Linked DNA regions of Homo sapiens. The protein of the gene in region 4 purifies or fractionates together with the protein of the main gene of each other region. This does not show direct contact. Each region holds a gene or a part of one and is shown on either strand. Other genes may lie near its edges.

Region 1 (5,062 bases), on a different chromosome or scaffold from region 4:
TTTTTAAAAAAAAGGAATATCTAATTAATCATTAATATGAAAAATTTAAGTGACTATGAAGTAATGACTGTTAATCACCATAGTGGGCTATCTGTGTTGTCTTAACTGTTAAGTTTGTGTGATTATATTGCTTCTGATATGTTTAATAAAAATAAAACAAATGCAGTACTTTATGGGCTTGCCTAGTAGAACATTTGGAGAAGGGGCCAGGCACAGTGGCTCATGCCAGTAATCCTAGCACTTCTGGAGGCCCGGGTGGGCGGATCACTTGAGGTCAGGAGTTCGAGACCAGCCTGGCCAACATGGTGAAACCCCGTCTCTACTAAAAGTACAAAAATTAGCTGGGCATGGTGGCGTACCCACCTGTAATCCTAGCTACTTGGGAGGCTGAGGAAGGACAATTGCTTGAACCCAGGAGGCAGAGGTTGTAGTGAACCGAGATCGTGACACTACACTCTGGCCTGGGCAGCAGAGCAAGATTCTGTTGAAAAAAAAAAAAAAAAAAAAAAAAAGAACGTTTGGAGAAGGACTGTGTTCATGGATAGATACTAATACTTCTGTATACTAAAAGAGTCCAATTTTATGGTGTTCTAAGCTATTTGCATTTTGTTCTATTTATGATGTTATAACCAATTTTTATGATATCATATATTGAATTGAAATGTACTCTTACTGGGAATATAGTTTTAGATTTTCGATAAGTAACTTGACAGAATCTGGTTTAATCAGCTCAAATTCTTCAGTTGTATAATGAGCATTTGTTAATAGACTGTTATAGTTTGTCAATTCCAAATGTCCTTTTTTACATTTCTGAAATTAGGATCTATCTTATCACTGATGATATGTCATAACTGGCAGCATTTTTATTTCTCAGTAGTATATAAAATATATTTTAAAAATTATGTTTTAAAATTGTTACCACCTTGGGTTTCATGAAATACGGTATTTGATGAGTTTTCCTTTCATTTTTATGTCAGACTGAAATAAGCAGGTTTGCTTTGATAATGTGTTAATTTTTATGGACTGAAGTAAAGTTTAACTTCATGCTATCCTTGGAAATTGTGGTTTATTAATAAACATTGAGTGCCATTGTCTCTGTACTAAGTGTTTAACTCCTTTATTTACTAATGGAAGGACTGAAGTTTAGAAGGCTTAAGTGATTGTCTCACATTTGTACAACCAGTTAATAACAGAGCCATGGCCACATTGCTTGACCACTAATTCTGTGCTGTTTATCTACTGAACTGTAATGGCTCAGTAACAGTAACTAACAGAAGTGAGGCCTTACTCAGTACTTCATTCAGGGGTAATAGGATAGTCTACCAGTTTGAGAGTCTCGTAATCTCTGCCTAACTTGCTACTTGCCACCAGAGCATGGAAATATTACACAGCTACCATGGTGAACTCTTGTGTACTTTGCCTCCAACCATTCTCCTCTATTTGCTGGAGAATACTGTATCAGTTACTTTATACCCTGCAAGCTGGTTTAGGCTAATTTGTAGGAAACAGTAATTACAAGTTTCCACAGTATGAAATGGTGGTTGTAGCCCATTAGACAGTTGGACAAGCAGTGTGAAAAAGACCACAACCTATGGCAGCCATCACATTATCATTCTTGATATCAGTGGCAACAGTTATTAAACACAGACTCACTGGCAGCATGTGCCTCTTTCCTCTCTCTCCTTGATTATAGAAGGATGACTAGAGAGAGGTGAATATTCCTCATATAAGCATGGTTTGATGTTGGGATATTTGTATGGAAATTGTTCCTAAATTGTAAAAGGAGAAAACTGTAAAATGACTTAATCTATAAGATGCTTACATTCTCTTATGAAACAATAAATAGACAAAAATAGATTGTCTTTAATTTTTAAGGAAACATTTATATACCTTTCATTTAAAAAATATATTTGATTTCATGTTTGGTTAAATTTTTTTATAGCTTCTAAAGAATTGCTTCTAAAATTTTTTTCATTGCGTCCCCTAGCTTTCTGATTTTCCCCTCAGAGAGCCACACTTTCCTCACATTCACCCTTCCCCTCTGACCACCACATTTCTATGAAAAGTGGGAATAAGATTGATTCTGAATATGTTTTAGTTCTCATTCAAGGAGAGTGTTGGTAGAAAAGAATGTCTGACCATAAGCAGTGCTAAAAGTGTGAGCAGAATAGAACAAATGAAGACTAACAAGAAATTAGGGTCTTACTAATGCTAATAAATAATAACAACACTGACATGGGAGAAAGATAGGTTAACTCACTGATTAATTGCAACAAGAGCTTTTAGAGCACTGGTTACTGTCCTTGAGCTAGTGAACTCCCATTTTGAGGAATATTGTTTTAAATAAGTGAATAAAAAAATAAGTTTTAGTTCCTTATGTCTTCTAGGCTTTTACACTCTGATCGAGATCCTATTCCAGATGTTCCTGCAGTATACTTTGTAATGCCAACTGAAGAAAATATTGACAGAATGTGCCAGGTAATATGGGTTCTTATTTTCTGGACTCCTGAATTTGGAAATGGATTTTTTTTTCAAGAAAAATTCCTAGATGTCCAGGGTGAAAAATCAGAAATTCCTATGCCTACTTTCTCACTCTGATTTTTGAGACTATCTTTGAATTCCAAATAGCCTGAAAGACTTAAAACTTTTGGCTGAAGAAGTATTATACAGTAGTCCTCTCATGTCCACAGTTTCACTTTCCACAGTTTCAGTTATCCACAGTTAACCAGGTACTGAATATATTACAGTATTTTGAGAGACCACATTCATATAACTTTCATTACAGAATATATTTTCTGTAATATATTTCATTACAGAATATATTTTATAATTGCTCTATTTTATTTCTAGCTATTGTTGCTAATCATTTACCGTGCCCAATTTATAAATTATAAATTAAGTTTTATCATAAATATGTATGTATAGGAAAAAACATATACGGTTCAGTACTACCTGGTTTCAGGCATCCACTGGAGTCTTGGAAAATAACCCCTGCAAATAAGGGCAACCACTGTACTGGTAAAGTCTGAGTCTGGCTTTAACAAACAGAAAGCCTAGGTATATTGCCTTTCTAACTTATATAGGGTTTTCCTTTTCTAAAATAAGGGTGAGATTAGGAAGTCCACACTGGTGCAGAAGTACTATAAGGTAATCAAAGACCCAGGCTCCTTCTGTCGCTGATCATTCGTCTTTAGTTTGTTGGTTTTCCTTGTCTTGCTTGTCGCTGCGCCTGTAGGCATCAAATCTATGTTCACATCAACAAGAAGAGGGACATGGACTGTGCCAGCCCTGACTGTTGATTTTGATCAGGAATTTAAGCCTTTCCAGAAACTCCCAGAAGACCTTTATTTATTTCTCACTAGGTAGAATCAGTTACAAGGGTGGCTGCAAAAGTCAATATTTAGATGAGTCACCCCAAAGAAAATCTAGCAAGATTCTTTTAGCAAGGAAAAGGAGAAAAGTAGATATTGGATAGGTAAGTAACAGTGTCTTCCACAAGTCACAACATCTTTGTTATTGACTGTTGAATCAAATTGCTATTTAAATTGTTAGTGACGTTTGCAAATTTTGTGTCCTGTGTAGCTTTATGATGCCCAGCTTTCTCTTTTACCCTGCGTAAACTCAAGTATGCTATTCATGAAAGAGGTACCACTTGCAATCTCTTCTTCTTTCATTATTTAAATAACACCTTTATTGAAATTATAATTTACATACCATACAATTCACACATTTAAGGAGCACAAGTGTATGGTTCATTGGTTTTTAATATAGTCACAGAGTTTTGCAACCATCACCACAGTCAATTTTAGAACATTGTCATTACCTCAAAAAGAAACCTGGTACCATTTATCACATCCTCAACCCTCCCCCATCCTCTTCCATCCCTAAGCTACCTTCTGTTTCTGTATATTTGCCTACTCTGACCATTACATATGAATGAAATCCTATAATATGTGGTCTTTTGTATATGGCTGATTTCTCTTAGCATAATGTTTCCAAGGTTCATCCATATTGTAGCATGAATTGGTACCTTATTCCTTTTCGTGGCTGAATATATTCCATTGTATGGATGTACGAAATTTTATTCATCCTTTTACCACTTGATGGACATTTGGATTGTTTCTACCTTTTGGCTATTAATAATGTTGCCATAAATATTCATGTGCAGGTTTCTCTGTGGACATGTTTTCAATTCTCTTGTGGCCGTAAACACATAGGAATAAAATTGCATGGTCAAATGATAACTCTATGTTTACCTTTTTAGTAATAGACTGTTTTGCGAAGTGTGGTTGCACCATTTTATATTCCCACCAGTAGTGTGTGAGGGTTCTGATTTCTCCAGATCCTTGCTGAACACTTACTATCCGATATTTTTATTGTAGCCATCCTAATAGGTTTGAAGTGGCATCTCATTATAGTTTTGATTTGCATTTCTGTAATTAATGATATTAAGCATCTTTTAACATGCTTATTGGCCATTTGTATGTCTTTCTAGAAATATCTATTCAGATCATTCACCCAGTTTTTAATTGGGTTGTCTTTTTATTGTTGAGTTGATAGAATTCTTTTTCTGTTTTGGATACTAGACACTCACAAGTTTATGATTTGTAAATATTTTCTCCCAGTCTATGGGTTATCTTTTCATTCTCTGGATAATGTCCTTTGAAGCACAAACATTTTTGATTTTGATGAAGCCCAGTTTATCGGTTTTTTTTTTTCTTGAGTTGCTTATGCTTTTGGTGTCATATTTAGGAAACCATTCCAGATTCTTGTGTTTTCTTCTAAGAATTTTATAGTTTTGGCTCTTACCTGTAGGTCTTGATTCCCCTTTGCATTATTTTTATATATGGTGGGATGTAGGTGTCCAACTTTATTCTTTTGCATGTGGCTATCCAGTTGTCCCAGCGTAATTTATTAAAGAGACTATTCTTTCCCTAGTGAATGGTCTTGGCAGCCTTGTCAAAAATCAGCTGACCACAGATATCTTGTTTGATTTCTGAACTCTCAGTTCTATTGCATTGATATCTATGTCTTTCCTTATGCCTGTACCACACAGTGTTGA
Region 2 (5,062 bases), on a different chromosome or scaffold from region 4:
GAGTCTTGCTCTGTCGCCCAGGTTGGAGTGCAGTGGCATGATCTCGGCTCACTGCAAGCTCCGCCTCACTGGTTCATGCCATTCTCCTGCCTCAGCCTCCCGAGTAGCTCGGACTGCAGGTGCCCACCACCATGCCCAGCTAATTTTTTTGTATTTTTAGTAGAGACAGGGTTTCGCCTTGTTAGCCAGGATGGTCTCGATCTCCTGACCTCGTGATCCACCTGCCTCGGCCTCCCAAAGTGCTAGGATTACAGGCGTGAGCCACCGCGCCGGGCCTTAGGTTGGATTCTTAAGAGTGGAGTTATTGTAAAACTTAAAAGTCATATTGAGAAGTTTAGAGTTTACATTTTAGGCATTGGGCCACCATCAAAATTTTAATAGAGAAATGATTCTGAAATCTGTTATTTAGGAAAATGAATCTTATGGCTGAATGTTGAAATGGTGGGGTAGAGGGTGTGTAAAGACAGAACTCCACAGGGCATTTGAGGAGCCATGGCAACAGTGGTGTAGGCATGAGATAATGAAGACCTTATTTCAAAGAAAGAATTAGGTTGGGCACGGTTCTCACACCTGTAATCCCAGCACTTTGGGAGGCCAAGGCAGGTGGATCACTTGAGCCCAGGAGTTTGAGACCAGTCTCAAACATGGCAAAACCCTGTCTCTACAAAAAATACAAATAGTCTGGGCACGGTGGCTCACGCCTATAATCCCAGCACTTTGGGAGGCCAAGGCTGGCAGATCACCTGAGGTCAGGAGTTCGAGACCAGCTTGGCCAACATGGCGAAACCCCGTCTCTACTAAAAATACAAAAATTAGCTGGGTGTGGTGGGAGGCGCCTGTAATCCCAGCTACTTGGGAGGCTGAGGCGGTAGAATCGCTTGAACCTGGGAGGCAGAGGTTGCAGTGAGCCGAGATCACACCACTGCTCTCCACCATGGGTGACAAGAGCAAAACTCCGTCTCAAAACAAATAAACAAACAAAAAAAAACCACCACAAATATTAGCCAAGCGTGGTGGCATGCACCTGTAGTCCTAGCTACTTGGAGGTTGAGGTGGGAGGTTGCAGTGAGCCATGATCGTGCCATTGCACTCCAGCCTGGGCAACAGAGCGAGACCCTGTTGAAAAAAAAAAGAATTAACAAGATTCAACCTGTTTAATGTAGAAGTGAATAAGGGGAGACCTATACATGATCACATGATCTCAGGATTTTCAATCTAGGCAACTGGGATGTTGGAAGTATCATTACAGAAATTGGAGGCATATGGGAAGAAAAAACAAAATTGGGGACAAATGGTCAAATTGTTATTAATATCATGCTTCACCTGAGGTTGAGAATATCCGAAGGGTCAAGTGAAGATATAAGACTGCAGTTTGGGTACAACTATGTAGATAGATGAGTCAGTCAAATACAAGTGTCAAAATAGGATTTGTTCTCTGAGGAAAAAAATGTAGAGAATCAAGGACTGAGCTCCAAAGACTAAATTAACTTCAGAAATGAAAATAAAGTATAAGGAAGAATAGTAGAAAAAGGGATCGAGGTGATTGGAAAACCAGGAGAGTGCCTTTCAAAGGCACTTTTCTCTGATTTTATTCTGTTCTAAAATAATTAAAAGACTGTCATGAAGAAGAATTAAACTTTTCTTTGGAATTTTAGAAGGCAGATTTAGAAATAATTAGTGGGTGGATGTTACGGGTCTTAGACTTTGAATCAGAATAAAGAACATTCTGACATTTCAAAATGGAATGAGTAACTCTTAAAGGAATTAAGCTCTCTTCCTATTGTTCAGTAGAGACTAACTGACCATTTGGAATGTCAAGGATCCTTCCAACTCTGGGGTTCTTTGAAGTCATGACCTATTTTTAAGTGCAGTAAGAGCAGAAGCCCACTGCTTTGCTCAGCTTTGCAGAAGCTTAGCAAAGGGAAGGGTAATAAGAAGATGGTGGGCCGGGCCTAGTGGCTCACACGTGTAATCCTAACACTTTGGGAAGCCGAGGCACAAGGATGGCTTGAACCCAGGAGTTTGAGACCAGCCTGGGCTACATAGTGAGACCCCATCCTTATTAAAAATTAAAAAACATTAGCCAGGCGTGGTGGTGTGTGCCTATAGTTCCACCTACTTGGGAAGAGGCTAAGGCAGGAGGATTCCCTCAACCCAGGAGTTCGAGGCTCCAGTGAGCTAAGATCACACCACTGCACTCCAGCCTGAGCAACAGAGCAAAACCCTGTCTACTTAAAAAAACAAACAAACAAAAAATCATTTGTTGGGAAGCTCTAAGTGTAGAATGAGTAAGTAATAGTTAATTATTTATCTTCGATTACATAAAGTTGTTTGGAGTTTTGTCATTTATTTTTACAGACTAGAAATATATAGTACTGAATTCTTAATGGGGCTCTGGCCTACTTGCTTATACTGTTAACACTGAGAATTTGAATTCAAACATGAGTCAAGTTGGAATGAACCATACTAATTTTCTGAACCCAAATGTTTTTTAACTCAATGGTGAACCACATTTTTTTTTTCCTTCAGAAAAGCATTTAGCAAACCAGTCAGAACTAGAACTCTACTACATTTTCTAAAATTACTGAACAGGCACAAAATTGTAATCAAATATTTTTCATATCAAACTGGAAATGAAACATTTCATATATTTTAATTTCAGCTTGAAATTTTGTTAGTAATGCAACAGGAATACAGAAATACATTATGAATCAGTGGGAAAAAATCAATGTTAGTGATATGTTTAAAATTACTTGTTTTGTATTTGTCATTTAAAGCTAAGCTACCAAACTTCATATATTCAAGTTGTTGCTTAGTAGATAACATTGAACCAGATTTAATTAAATGCTGAGTAATATATAATTAGCAAAACAGTTGTATGTAAGAGTGCCTTAAAATGATACTCTGCATCTTAAAATTTATAGTTATAAGTGCCTATATTTAAAAAGTATACTTTTCAATCAATTACCTAACCTTCCACTTAAGACAATGGAAAAATGGGCCAGGTATGGTGGCTCACGCCTGTAATCCCAGGACCTTCGGAGGCCGAGGCTAGCAGATCACTGGAGGTCAGGAGTTTGAGACCAGCCTGGCCAACATGGTGAAACCCTGTTTCTACCAAACAATGCAAAAATTAGCCTGGCATGGTTTTGTGTGCCTGTAGTCCCACCTACTTGGGAGGCTGAAGTGAGACAATCACTTGAACCCAGGAGGCGGAGGTTGCAGTGAGCCAAGATTGCGCCACAGCATTCCAGCCTGGGTGACAGAGTGAGACCATGTCTCAAAAAGAAAAAAAAAGAAAAAGACAATGGAAAAAAAAGAGCAAACTAAACCCAGAGCAAGCAGAAGGAAGGAAATAATAAGGATCAGAGTAGAAAATACTGAGAGAATACAGTAGAGAAAATCAATGAAACAAAAAATTGGTTCTTTAAGAAAAACCGTATTTTCCATTTTTAAACATTCCCTGGCAAAATATATACATTAGCTATTAACTTGTATCATCTGAAATAATTTGCTGGAAAAAAAATTGATCCAGTCTTTATCAGAATAATTACAGCTTTCTCGTAAGATTTTATAACATACTCTCATATTAATTATTCTTACAGTTTTCAGCCATTTCTTCTTGCACACTTGTATACCTTTACAAATCCTTAACCAGGATTTATCTGAATCAGATTTTCTAAGGGTACTAAACATGTCGACTTTTTTCCTTCTTTAAGCTGTTATGGTCTACTGTTATTATTGTGGAATTGATTTGAATTGCATTCTTTTCCACCTATTATGGGAGCCTGAAAACCTTCCCTGAATAATGTGTGCTTTAGTTTACTTTCCCAAATTTGGATGTTAATAGTCTTGCCTCATCTAATAAAAGAACTGTGCCTCACTGATGAAGGTTACTCTTGCTGCTTTCAAATGACCAGGGCTCTTAAAGAAAGTCCCATCCGCTTCTTATATACTGTACTTGTATTTTGCCATTTGAAGCATTTACTTACCAGACAACAGATACATAGATACTTCTCTTCCTTCAGTGTTTTCTTAGACTCACATTCAGCCTACTTTCATGGTCAGATTACAGAGGCTAGGCCACGTTGTGCAAGGAACCTGTGTCTGTGGATGCAGTCCAGTTCAGAGTTATATTTATTTGAAATTGGCATTTAGATCTTTTTAAAAACTGTTTTGTTTTCCTTAATTTTTTGGAGTCCTTGGCAGTCAGATTTTATAGATTCCAGGCAGTCCCAATTCAAACTCCAGTAGACTTTTTTGTAAAGTGTGTAAGCTCATGTTAAAATTTACATGAAACTGAAAAGAACCAAGAATAGCCAGATTATAGGACATAAACTACCTGATTTAAAGACTAACTATAAAAACTATAGTAATCAAGAGAGTTTGATATTAGTGGGAAGGTAGATATATGTATCAAGGGAACAGAATAGTCAAAGCAGACCCACATATATATGGTCATTGACTTTTTTCTACAAAAGCACCATTGTAATTCAGTGGGGGGAAAGACAGTTCTTCAACAAATCTTGCCAAAACAACTGGAAATCCATACGCAACTAAATAAACCTTGATCCTTACCTCATATATAAAATTATTTCAAAATGGATTATAAACCTAAATCTACAAACTAAAAGCTATAAAACTTCTAGAAAAAAATGTAAGAAACTTTGTGCAACCCTGGGGTAGGCAGAGATGTCTTAGGAGAAAAAAAGTATAAATTATAAAAGAAAAAATGTTAAATTGGACTTTATGAAAATCAAAACTTGTTTGCTCATTAGAAGAAACCATCAAAAAAGGCAAATCAATGACGGAGAAAATATATTTGGGAAAAAACTTGTATCTAAGATATATAAAGAACTCTTACAACTCAAAATAAACAACCTAACTTTTTGAAAATGGGCAAAAGACTTGAATGGACATTTCATAAAAGAAGATACATGAATAAGCACCATGAAAAGATGCTCAACATCATTAGTCATCAAGGAAACAAAAGTTAAAACTACAATGAGATACCACTTTACGTCACTGAATGGCAAAAATAAAAAGCAGTACCTAGTATTGA
Region 3 (5,062 bases), on a different chromosome or scaffold from region 4:
TCCCCAGAAATCCTCTCGTTCATATAATTTTTCCGCTCTCTATGAGATCTTCCCATCAGTATAAACCATGGGATATTCTTCCTATTTGAACAATGGTAAAAACAGAAAAACTCACTATGATCCTAGTTCCTCTTCTAGTATTACTCAATCTCTGTCATATGCATAAAAATATACTCACTGCCTCCAAATTTTTCTATTTTGTCTTGAATGCACTCCACTGAAATTGCTCTTTGAAGGTCATGAGTGACATCCTCGTCATCCAATCCAAAGGTCCATTCTCAGTCTTCAACTTTCTTGACCTATCCATAGCATTTTCCAGTTGATCACTCTGTCCTCCTCAAAAACAATGTATTAACCTGATATCTGGTGCATTACACTTTCTTGGTTCCTTCTCCCTCTCTCTTTCTTGCTCACTCCTGCTCTGCCTGTCACTCTCTCTGTCATCTCCCCTCTGAATCCATTGTTGGCTCCTCCCTATCTCTCTGACTTATCTCCCTGACATTTGTTAAAGTGTCTCTGGGTCAACTTCCTTGGTGATCTCACTCATTGTTATGGCTTTGATACCTTCTGTCTTCCGTTGGATTCTGAAGTTTCTGTTTTCAGTTAGAGCTTCTCTTTTGTAAATCATGTTGCATTACACAAATGTCTACATCTTGATGTAAGTATCTAATAGGCAACCCAAATTTTGAAAGTCTAAAACTCAGCTACTTTTCTACTCCCAACCCCACCCACACCCAGCAAGAATCTTGTTTCTCTCCAGTCCTCCCCCAGCTCAGAGCATTTCCTTCCTTCATTCTAGTTTCTCACACCAAAAACTTAGAAGTTATCCTGGAATTCTGTCTTTCTCTCACATCACAGCCACACTGGAAGCTTCTACTATTAATTCTGTCATTGAAATACATTCAGAATCTGATTGCATCTCACCACACACACTGTTACCACCCTGATAGAAATCATGATCATCTTTCTCTTGGATGATTTCAGTTGGCTTCATACTCATCTCCCTGTTCCCAGCCTGGCACCCTTTCAAACTTCAACACAGTAAAGGAAGTCAAATCACTTCATCTTTCTGCTCAAATCTTCCAATGACTTACTATGTTAGTCACAGTAAAAGCCTAATTAGATGTACTTAACCTTTAGGTAGTATAATACATTGATATAATTCTCATCTCTTAAATATATCAAAGAGAGAAAAATCTCTGAAAAGCTAAAATAGTTTTTAAAATTAAGGAAAACACAGCTCTAAAATTTAATTACAGCTTGATAAAAAATCAGATGCAATTTATACCATATTTCTAGATAGATCACCTCTGTAATCACATCCTAAAGGCTATGCTTGCCTCTTCAGAGCAGTTTTCATATGATTGGAAGAATAAAATTTTGGAAATCCCTAATATATTTGTTTGCATTTTTTTATGATTCAATCTTTCATTTAGCAAACATTTTATATCTCCTAGGACATAGAAAAGGGAAGACTTATAGATTCTATCCATTGAAGTTACTAGCAGTTCAAATACTTTTTTATTTCATGTACAGGGATGACTAAGATAAATCCAACCTATTCCAACTAGAGCTTGATATGATCACTAACTTGACTATTCCAGATTCTTCCTGTGGTATCACAAATTAGAATAAATGGGCCTATCAGTCTTAATTTAGCCACAACTACCTTAGTCAACTTGCAGAACTTGTTATTTGTCTGAAAACTTACAGAGTCATCTTTTCTATAATGCTGTCCCATACAATATGTGCTGAAATTATTTCTTCCATTCCTGAACATCCATAACATAGGGTTTATTTGCACTCTGGGTAACATAAATACACATTATTTTAATTCATTCCTAATTTTTTTTCCAGTGCTAACTCTTATTTGGATTATAAACTTCCCAAGGGCATTTTCTTTCTTGGCATGCATGCATATTATAGCAAGATGAAGTTTCTATTTCTGCGCAAAAAATTGTAGCCAGGAGATATTTAGAATGTTGAAATTGACATATTCTTTTTGTCAAAACAACAAATCAGTAAAAACAGCTTTTCTTAAGTTATTTGGAAATGATCACAAACTTTTTCTTTTTTTTTTTTTTTAATTACTTTTAGCAAGCTCTATTGCCAAGATTGGCTCAGATCCTTTAAAACTGGTACGTGATGCTATGGAGGAAACCACGGACTGGATCTATGGCTTCTTTTCTTTGTTATCTGACATCATCTCATCTGAAGATGAAGAAGATGATGATGGTGACGAAGATACTGATAAAGGTACAAAGAACATAGAGATATATCTAACTGCTAGGAGCAACATTAAATATGTATTATAGTGGCTTGCCTCAGTTTAAATTCAAATGAGCACTTGGGTCAAGCTAAACCAAAATGAATACACTTCTGACTGCTAAAAGCATATCAACAGGCTGCCAAACACAGTAAATTGTTCTTTATTTAATTTTCATCTTATAGCTTATCTACCATTATGGCAAAGATGTCAAAATTAAATGTTAATATTAATGTAGCATTACAGCAAAGGGAGTCTCATTATGCTCTGCTATAAAACCACAATACAAACTCACATTTATATGCTTCTTTGGAAAAAATAGTTATTTTTCAAGTTTATCTCTAGGAAGATTAAAATAAAAACAGTAAAACTAAAAATACATATAAGTGTTTTATACACATATGTCATATTTATAGTCAAATAGCAGAAAGCAATCTTACTAAAAGTACAATCAAAAGAGTAAATTTATTGGACCAAATGGTGGTGTAGAATAGAAGGACACATTCTAAATGTCCTAACAATTATGCAACTAACCTATGTGCTCTCTCATATATATTAATGAATAAAAGGAAATAGCCATCTCAAACCACATAAAAGCTGCCATTGAATGAGTATGAAAAGAACAAAGCACTGTGATTCCATCTATTAGATAACACTTTTTAGGGTCAGTCTTAGTCATCAGAAATCATGTATTCAGCCTTGACTACCAGGAAAGCTTTTATTATTAGAGTATTTTTATAACTTTTCCTGAAATTATATTTGTTTTGGCCCCAGTAAGAGTTCAACATGAACAATAGAGAGTTGAAATTAATATGATATATAACCTATAATGTATAATTTGGATCACTGCCACAATTTTATTGAATTCATAAAAATGAAACAATCTTATATAAATGTATATAAACAAACTTTATACTTAAAAACTGGAATTTGGGAAGCAAAGTAATGTAAAGACTATGATTGTTAAAACTAATAGATTTTTTTAAATAAACAAAAGGGGAAAATAATGATGTCATATTATTCTATGCTAAAATATTTTCTAACTTTGTTTTTCTTTTAATCTTGGTCTAGGAGAAATAGATGAGCCTCCCTTGAGAAAAAAAGGTTAGTTGTTTTCACCTTTGATAATAATTATTTTTCTCTTATGGTAATATTGGTTTTCAGCATGGTTCAAATATATTTTACTTATTTTAATATAAAGGTTTTGTTTAATAATTAGGTCAAGATTTATAGTCAGAAAAAAAATACTCAATTTCTTTTCCAATGAAGGTGATCTCACTACTTTTCTGTTGATTATTTTTTAAATGCCTTATTCAGTAGATTTGTATGGATTCATTTATACACAGACCAATATGAGCTGGAATTTGAGGAATGAGGGGAGAATTCTGTAGCCTTAGAAATGGCCCAGAAAATGACACCCATGATTTATTCTCACCATGGTCAGATTTATTGATTTTAAATGTTTATTCTTATTCTTTTCCTTTTATTTTTTTTGCCATCATTATTTTGCATGTTAGGTGATGACTATGGGCCAGGACAACAAGACGGTGAGGGACATAACAGCCTAGGAGGCAAAGGCATATCCAGTTGGTATGTGTGATGTGTCACTGTCATGGAGTGGAGTTACCTGGATGTGCCTGGATGTGCTGTAGAGGAATTACTTGCAGGAATAGATAAGGTGACTGAGTGAAGTGGTCACAACCTGAATGATAAGAACGATAAACCTAGGACAAAGGAGGACAGCAATGGGGCAGGAATTTCAGAAGACAGAGATTTTGACAGGAAGGGGTAGGAACTGCATCTGGAAGGGGCACTGGGGAGCAGGTAGTACCATCTTGAGGTACATTTGTTGTGAGAAAACAGCCAACATTCAAGCCAGACTTAAAACAATTGCAGTGTTTTAGTTACTGCTACACATGGGCAGGCTGTTGAGGGTTTACCCAGGAAGATAACCCTGGCTTCTGTTGCTCTCTCCTAATACCTACTGTGGATTCAAACAATGGGATCCAAACTTACAGTTTCAGCCTTCCCTGAGAAAATGATGACTACCCCACACTATCTGGGGTAAAATCCACTTAGTGTATGTTAAATTAGAAACTTTGGATTTGTAACTTACACAGCAAAAAAGAGCTAAGCCAGTCAAACTCAACTATGGCAAAGGCATCCAGAAATGAAAGTGTTTATAAAGCTCTGTGAGGAGAAAGGAAGGGTTTATACACCTGCAAATCCAGAATGAGAACTCAAGTACTCAAGACAGACTTCAGCCATCAAATCCAGGTTTAGAGATTCTAGATTTGTCTATAAACTTCAAGAGATTTATAGCTGATTTCCCATAGAGAGTGAACATAGTCAAGCTTTAAGTGAGTTATTAGTCATTATCTGGAAATAACAGCTTATGCACGTTTATTTTCATTGGAAATGGAAGAAGGGAAAACAGATAAATAATGTTTGCTCATTTATACTTATAAACTGAATTCCATAAGACTATTATAAAGCCATGTTTTTCATAAATTGATATTTACTATTTAATAAAAAATCTTTTCTTTTGATTTAAATTTTTCTTTGAAATTATTTTAAAATTAAGCTTCATATAGTAATTAGTATAAACTGCAAATTCATACAAAGCTGTTTTACTATTGTTTCTTAAATTATTTCCTTGATTCAGCAAATCAAATTTTTGCCAGAAAAACTATTAAATAGTTGTTTAGGGTACTTTTAAAAAATGTTAGAAATGTTTATTAGTCAAAAATAGTCTAAGGGATATATGTCCTTCAACACATGTGCACTAATGTCCTT
Region 4 (5,062 bases):
AGAGATTGCTCTCGTGTTCATTCATTTATTCAGCAGAAGTTTAATGAGCATCTACTATGTGCCAGGCTGTATACTAGGTGCTAGGCATATATCTATGAATAAGACAGAGCAGTTTTTTCCTTCCTTCATGAAGCTTTAATTCTATTGGCATATTGTTCTTTTTCATATATCTGGTAGAGGAGGATTTATATTAGTAGTCTACAGAGCATTTATTTAATACTTTTCATTTGCCACACCCAGGCACTGTCACAGGGTAGCACAAAGTCTTCAGTAAGATTGGAGACTATAGTCATTGCCTGGGCATTTATCTGTGTCCAGTATAACTCTGATCTGTATTGAGCTGCTCATCAGATGCTAATACATACCTAACCTGATGAAGGTTAGTGGTGTTTTGGAAAAGGCAAAAGAAACACTGAGGACAGGTGGGTTTAGAATTTGAATCTGTCAAACCTAAGTTTCACTTGTAAAAAGATAGATTTTTGACTATTCAGATTTGAAAAGGCAATTTAACACAATTCTACAAAACAAAAGGATGATTGCATACTGTAAGTGAAAATGGAGAAGATTAGTACCAAAGCATGCAGGACATGGCTGTATATATTGGATTTAAAGCCAGTTCCTGAGTATTCGTTAGCTAGTTATCCAATCTGTGGATCATTTAAACCTCAATCTTATTTCCTCTTGGTAAGAGTCAAGGAAAGAAGAGAGAATGTAATGTTGAGGTTGAAGGAACCATAATTCCTTTGGGGTAAAAATGTAAAAGATCGTTTCTCACAGACCCTATATAACATAATCCATAATTCATTTTATGGCTCCTATTAATCACCTTATTATTTTAAGTATGTTTTAAAGGACTGATTTGAGTAATGGATCCTCTTTAACTGAACTTCTTTTTAGTTCTGATACAACACCCCTTTTAAATGGATCAAGCCAAGACAGAATGTTTGAGACAATGGCGATTGAGATTGAACAACTTTTGGCAAGGGTAAGTGCTTTCTGTTAAATGGCTATTTTGCAAATAACTGTATACTTGTTACGTAGGATCCTGGATTATATTGAGACAGACATGTTTATTGAAATTATCCATTCCATTCAATATGTGTACCTCCCCACACCACTTGAATTTTGATGACAGCCATTCTCAGGTGATATGATGTTATTTTGGTCTTTATGGATTATGTGGGGGAATGCTGAATTCTTACTTGCTCTCTTGTTTGTTTTTTGTTTTGTTTTGTTTTGTTTTGTTTTGCTGTCAACCAAAAGGGCATATAGGCAAATAATTTGCTTTTAGCTGTTTATAGTGCTTAGTAAAATATTTTGATTGTTTTTTTTTTCTTTATTTCTAGCTTACAGGGGTAAATGATAAAATGGCAGAATATACCAACAGTGCAGGTGTCCCCTCCTTGAATGCAGCCCTGATGCATACATTACAGCGGCATAGAGACATATTGCAGGTAATATATTGGGCTCGAGATGTTTTCATTATCACAGGAGTTTGGGTTTTTTTTTTTTTAATCCCTGCATTGGATATGTGCACATATATTTAAAAGGACAAAGAGAAAAATCTGAGAAAATAAATGCCATGCTAAAGGGACTTGTTTTACTTTTTTTTGGGGTCACCATTATAAAATTCTGAAAATATCTAATAGCTCTTGCTATTTCTTGGCGAAGTTGAGTAATATTCATCACTGGGTACATATACTTCCACTATGGGAGACCTAGCTAGCTAGCTGTAACAGTGAAATAGCCAATGGTCATGTATAGACAATAACGTGGTGGGTAAGCGTGTACTTTCAGCTAGCTTTGAAGATAATATGGAGGGGGAATTATTTACTATACTTAGTATATTGTTTAAGAAAACAGTAAATGTGTATGCACCAATAAAACTAAATAAACTTTTAAAGATTTAAATGGAGGATATGTTAAAAATATGGTAGTACAAATAGGAAGGCAATTTTTTTTTTTTTTTTGAGATAGGGTTTCTCTGTCACTCAGGCTGGAGTGCAGTAGTACAGTCACAGCTCACTGCAGCCTCAACCTCCCAAGCTCAAACAAGCCTCCTACCTCAGCGTCCTGAGCATCTGGGACCACAAGCACATGCCACCACGCCTGGCTAATTTTTTAAAAGCTTTTGCAGAGACAGGTCCTTGCCATGTTTCCCAGGCTGGTCTCTAACTCCTGTGTTCACGAGGTTTTGCTATATTGCCCAGGCTGGTCTCTTAACTCCTGTGTTCACAGGTTTTTGCTATGTTGCCCAGGCTGTTCTCTTAACTCCTGTGTATGGGCAATCCACCCCCTCAGCCTTCCAAAGTGCTAGAATTATAGGCATGAGCCGCTGTACCCAGCCACAAATATTTTTAATATTGAGAAAAGTCAGCAACTATTTCTAATTTTAAAAACTGTTTTTAAAAGTAGGAATAGATGGCCGGGCGCAGTGGCTCGTGCCTGTAATCCCAGCACTTTGGGAGGCCAAGGCAGGTGGATCACCTGAGGTCAGGAGTTGGAGACCAGCCTGGCCAACATGGCGAAACCCTGTCTCTACTAAAAGTATAAAAATAAGCTGGGCATAGTGGTGGGCGCCTGTAATCCCAGCTACTTGTGAGGCTGAGGCAGGAGAAGCTTGAACCCAGGAGGCGGAGGTTGCAGTGAGCTGAGATTGCACCACTGCACTCCAGCCTAGGCTACAAGACTGAGACTCCATCTAAAAAAAAAAAAAAAAAAAAAGTAGGAATAGAAAGATACTTTAATACAAAAATGTATTATCGGGTTAAAAGCTAGCATTGTGTTTAAAGAGAAAGCAATAAAAACATTCCCATTGTATGAAACAAGACAAGGATACCCATGATCGCTACAAATGTATAACGTTGTTTTTTAAGTTCTTGATGGTGCAATTAGACAGTAAAAAGAAATGAAATGTATGCTGGGCATGGTGGCTCACACCTCTTATCCAAGCACTTTGGAGGTCTGAGGTGGGCGGATCATTTGAGGTCAGGAGTTGGAGACCAGCCTGGCCAGCAGGGTGAAACCCCTTCTCTACTAAAAATACAAAAATTAGCGGGGCGTGGTGGTGGGTGCCTGTTATCCCAGCTACTTGGGAGGCTGAGGCAGGAGAATAGCTTGAACATTGAACCTGGGAGGTGGAGGTTGCAGTGAGCCGAGATTGCACCACTGCACTCCAGCCTGGGCAACAGAGTGACTGTTTCAAAAAAAAAAAAAAAGATGTAAATATTGGAAAGGAAGAGGCAAAATTTCTGTGAGGTAGCAGGATAAAATTATATGTCTAGTACACGCAAGAAAATTACCTGATAAAAAGTTAGAAACAATTAAATTCAGTAAGATGGTAGATCACAAAATGAATACATAAAAGCAAATAGTTTTCCTATTATGATAGGAAATAAATGATAACCTGTTAGAAAATACAATGGAAGAAACTATAAAGCATTTATATATGAATTAAATAAGAAATGTGTAGGACTTGTATGTGCAGAATTCTACTGAGGGACATAGAACAAGATTTAAGTAAAGGAAAGAATCATTCTGTTTTTGGATAGGAAGACTTTCGTCTAAATTGCATGACATCCCAGTGGAAACAGCAGGGTTGTATCGTTGTTTGTTTAATTAAAAACAAATGACATAATGACACCAAAGTTCATTTGGAATCATAGACATACAAGAACAACCAAGAAAAACAACCTGAAAATGAAGATAAGTGGTAGAGGGTTCCTAGTTCTACCAGATCTTAAAACCTGTTAAAAAGCTGGAATAGTTAAGACAGTTTGATACTAGAGAAAAAAAATAAATAAATAAAAACAATTAAACAGAGTTTATATGTAGACCCAATTATGTTTGGAAATTTTTAGTTTCTGATAAAGATGTTGTTTAAAATCAGTGGGGCAAAGAGAAATTATAAAATAAATGGAACTATAACCATTGCTTAATTATTCAGAGATTTTAAAAAAACAATTCTATCTCAATCCTCACATCCAGAACAAATTCCAAATGGATCCAAGAAGGATAGAAAAAGAAACCATAAAGCAGAGGTGAAATTTGTAAACTTTGGAGCAGAAAGGACTTTCTAAATAAGACTTGATACTGGAAACCATAACGAATGGCTAATTTGCTTACTACACAGAGATATAATAGAAATAAGAAAAAGACAGTAGGAAAATGGACAAAGGATATAAAATTGCTTACAAAAAAATGAATGGCCAAAACTATAAAAACATTTTCAGCAGTATTTCCAAATAAAAATACAGAAATCTAAAAGAGGTGATTTTTCACATGTCAGATTAGCAAATGTTGAAACATTTATAACCCATTATTGGCAAGAGTAAAAATTTAAAAAGGGTACTCATATATTGCTGGTGGGAACATAAATTGATGTAATGTTTATAGAAGGCAGTTTAGCACTACCAGAATTTAAATGAATGTGAGATTCTTTGATCCAGTTATTCTTTTTTTTTTTTCTTGAGACGGAGTCTCGCTCTGTTGTCCAGGCTGGAGTATTGGAGTGCAATGGTGCGATCTCGGCTCACTGCAGCCTCCACGTCCTGGGTTCAAGCGATTCTTCTGCCTCGGCCTCCCGAGTAGCAGGAACTACAGGTGTGCGCCACCACGCCCAGCTAATTTTTGTATTTTTAGTAGAGATGGGGTTTCATCATATTGATCAAGCTGGTCTTGAACTCCTGATGTCATGATCCACCCACCTCGGCCTCCCAAAGTGCTGGGATTACAGGCATGAGCCACCGTACCCAGCCCTGATCCAATTATTCTATTGCTAGTCATTTACTCCTTTTTTTTTTTTTTAAGCTCTGTTGAACTTAATAGACATTTACTCTTTAAATATACTTTTTTTTTTTTTTTTTTGAGACAGAGTCTCACTCTGTCACCCAGGCTGGAGTGCAGTGGCGCGGTCTTGGCTCACTGCAACCTCTGCCTCCCGGGTTCACACCATTCTCCTGCCTCAGCCTCCCGAGTAGCTGGGACTCCAGGCGCTCGCCACCATGCCCGGCTATTTTTTTGTATTTTTAGTAGAGATGGGGTTTCACCGTGTTAGCCAGGA

The links. Proteins that work in one complex are often made in the same cells at the same time.
Region 1: the proteins of GOSR1 (region 4) and SCFD1 purify together in Homo sapiens (affinity purification with mass spectrometry; 2 studies listed by BioGRID and IntAct, with this or other methods). This does not show direct contact.
Region 2: the proteins of GOSR1 (region 4) and CHURC1-FNTB purify together in Homo sapiens (affinity purification with mass spectrometry, with the first as the bait; one large-scale study listed by BioGRID). This does not show direct contact.
Region 3: the proteins of GOSR1 (region 4) and TRDN purify together in Homo sapiens (co-immunoprecipitation; one large-scale study listed by IntAct). This does not show direct contact.

Annotation. Positions count from the first base shown.
Region 1 is NC_000014.9:30,631,560-30,636,621, forward strand, and holds part of SCFD1 (sec1 family domain-containing protein 1), read left to right. Parts: intron 1-2,387; coding exon 2,388-2,478; intron 2,479-5,062. UniProt on the Homo sapiens protein: Plays a role in SNARE-pin assembly and Golgi-to-ER retrograde transport via its interaction with COG4. Involved in vesicular transport between the endoplasmic reticulum and the Golgi.
Region 2 is NC_000014.9:64,916,602-64,921,663, forward strand, and holds part of CHURC1-FNTB (CHURC1-FNTB protein), read left to right. Parts: intron 1-5,062. UniProt on the Homo sapiens protein: Essential subunit of the farnesyltransferase complex. Catalyzes the transfer of a farnesyl moiety from farnesyl diphosphate to a cysteine at the fourth position from the C-terminus of several proteins having the C-terminal sequence Cys-aliphatic-aliphatic-X.
Region 3 is NC_000006.12:123,545,648-123,550,709, reverse strand, and holds part of TRDN (triadin), read left to right. Parts: intron 1-2,097; coding exon 2,098-2,256; intron 2,257-3,337; coding exon 3,338-3,370; intron 3,371-5,062. UniProt on the Homo sapiens protein: Contributes to the regulation of lumenal Ca2+ release via the sarcoplasmic reticulum calcium release channels RYR1 and RYR2, a key step in triggering skeletal and heart muscle contraction.
Region 4 is NC_000017.11:30,483,317-30,488,378, forward strand, and holds part of GOSR1 (Golgi SNAP receptor complex member 1), read left to right. Parts: intron 1-897; coding exon 898-985; intron 986-1,346; coding exon 1,347-1,454; intron 1,455-5,062. UniProt on the Homo sapiens protein: Involved in transport from the ER to the Golgi apparatus as well as in intra-Golgi transport. It belongs to a super-family of proteins called t-SNAREs or soluble NSF (N-ethylmaleimide-sensitive factor) attachment protein receptor.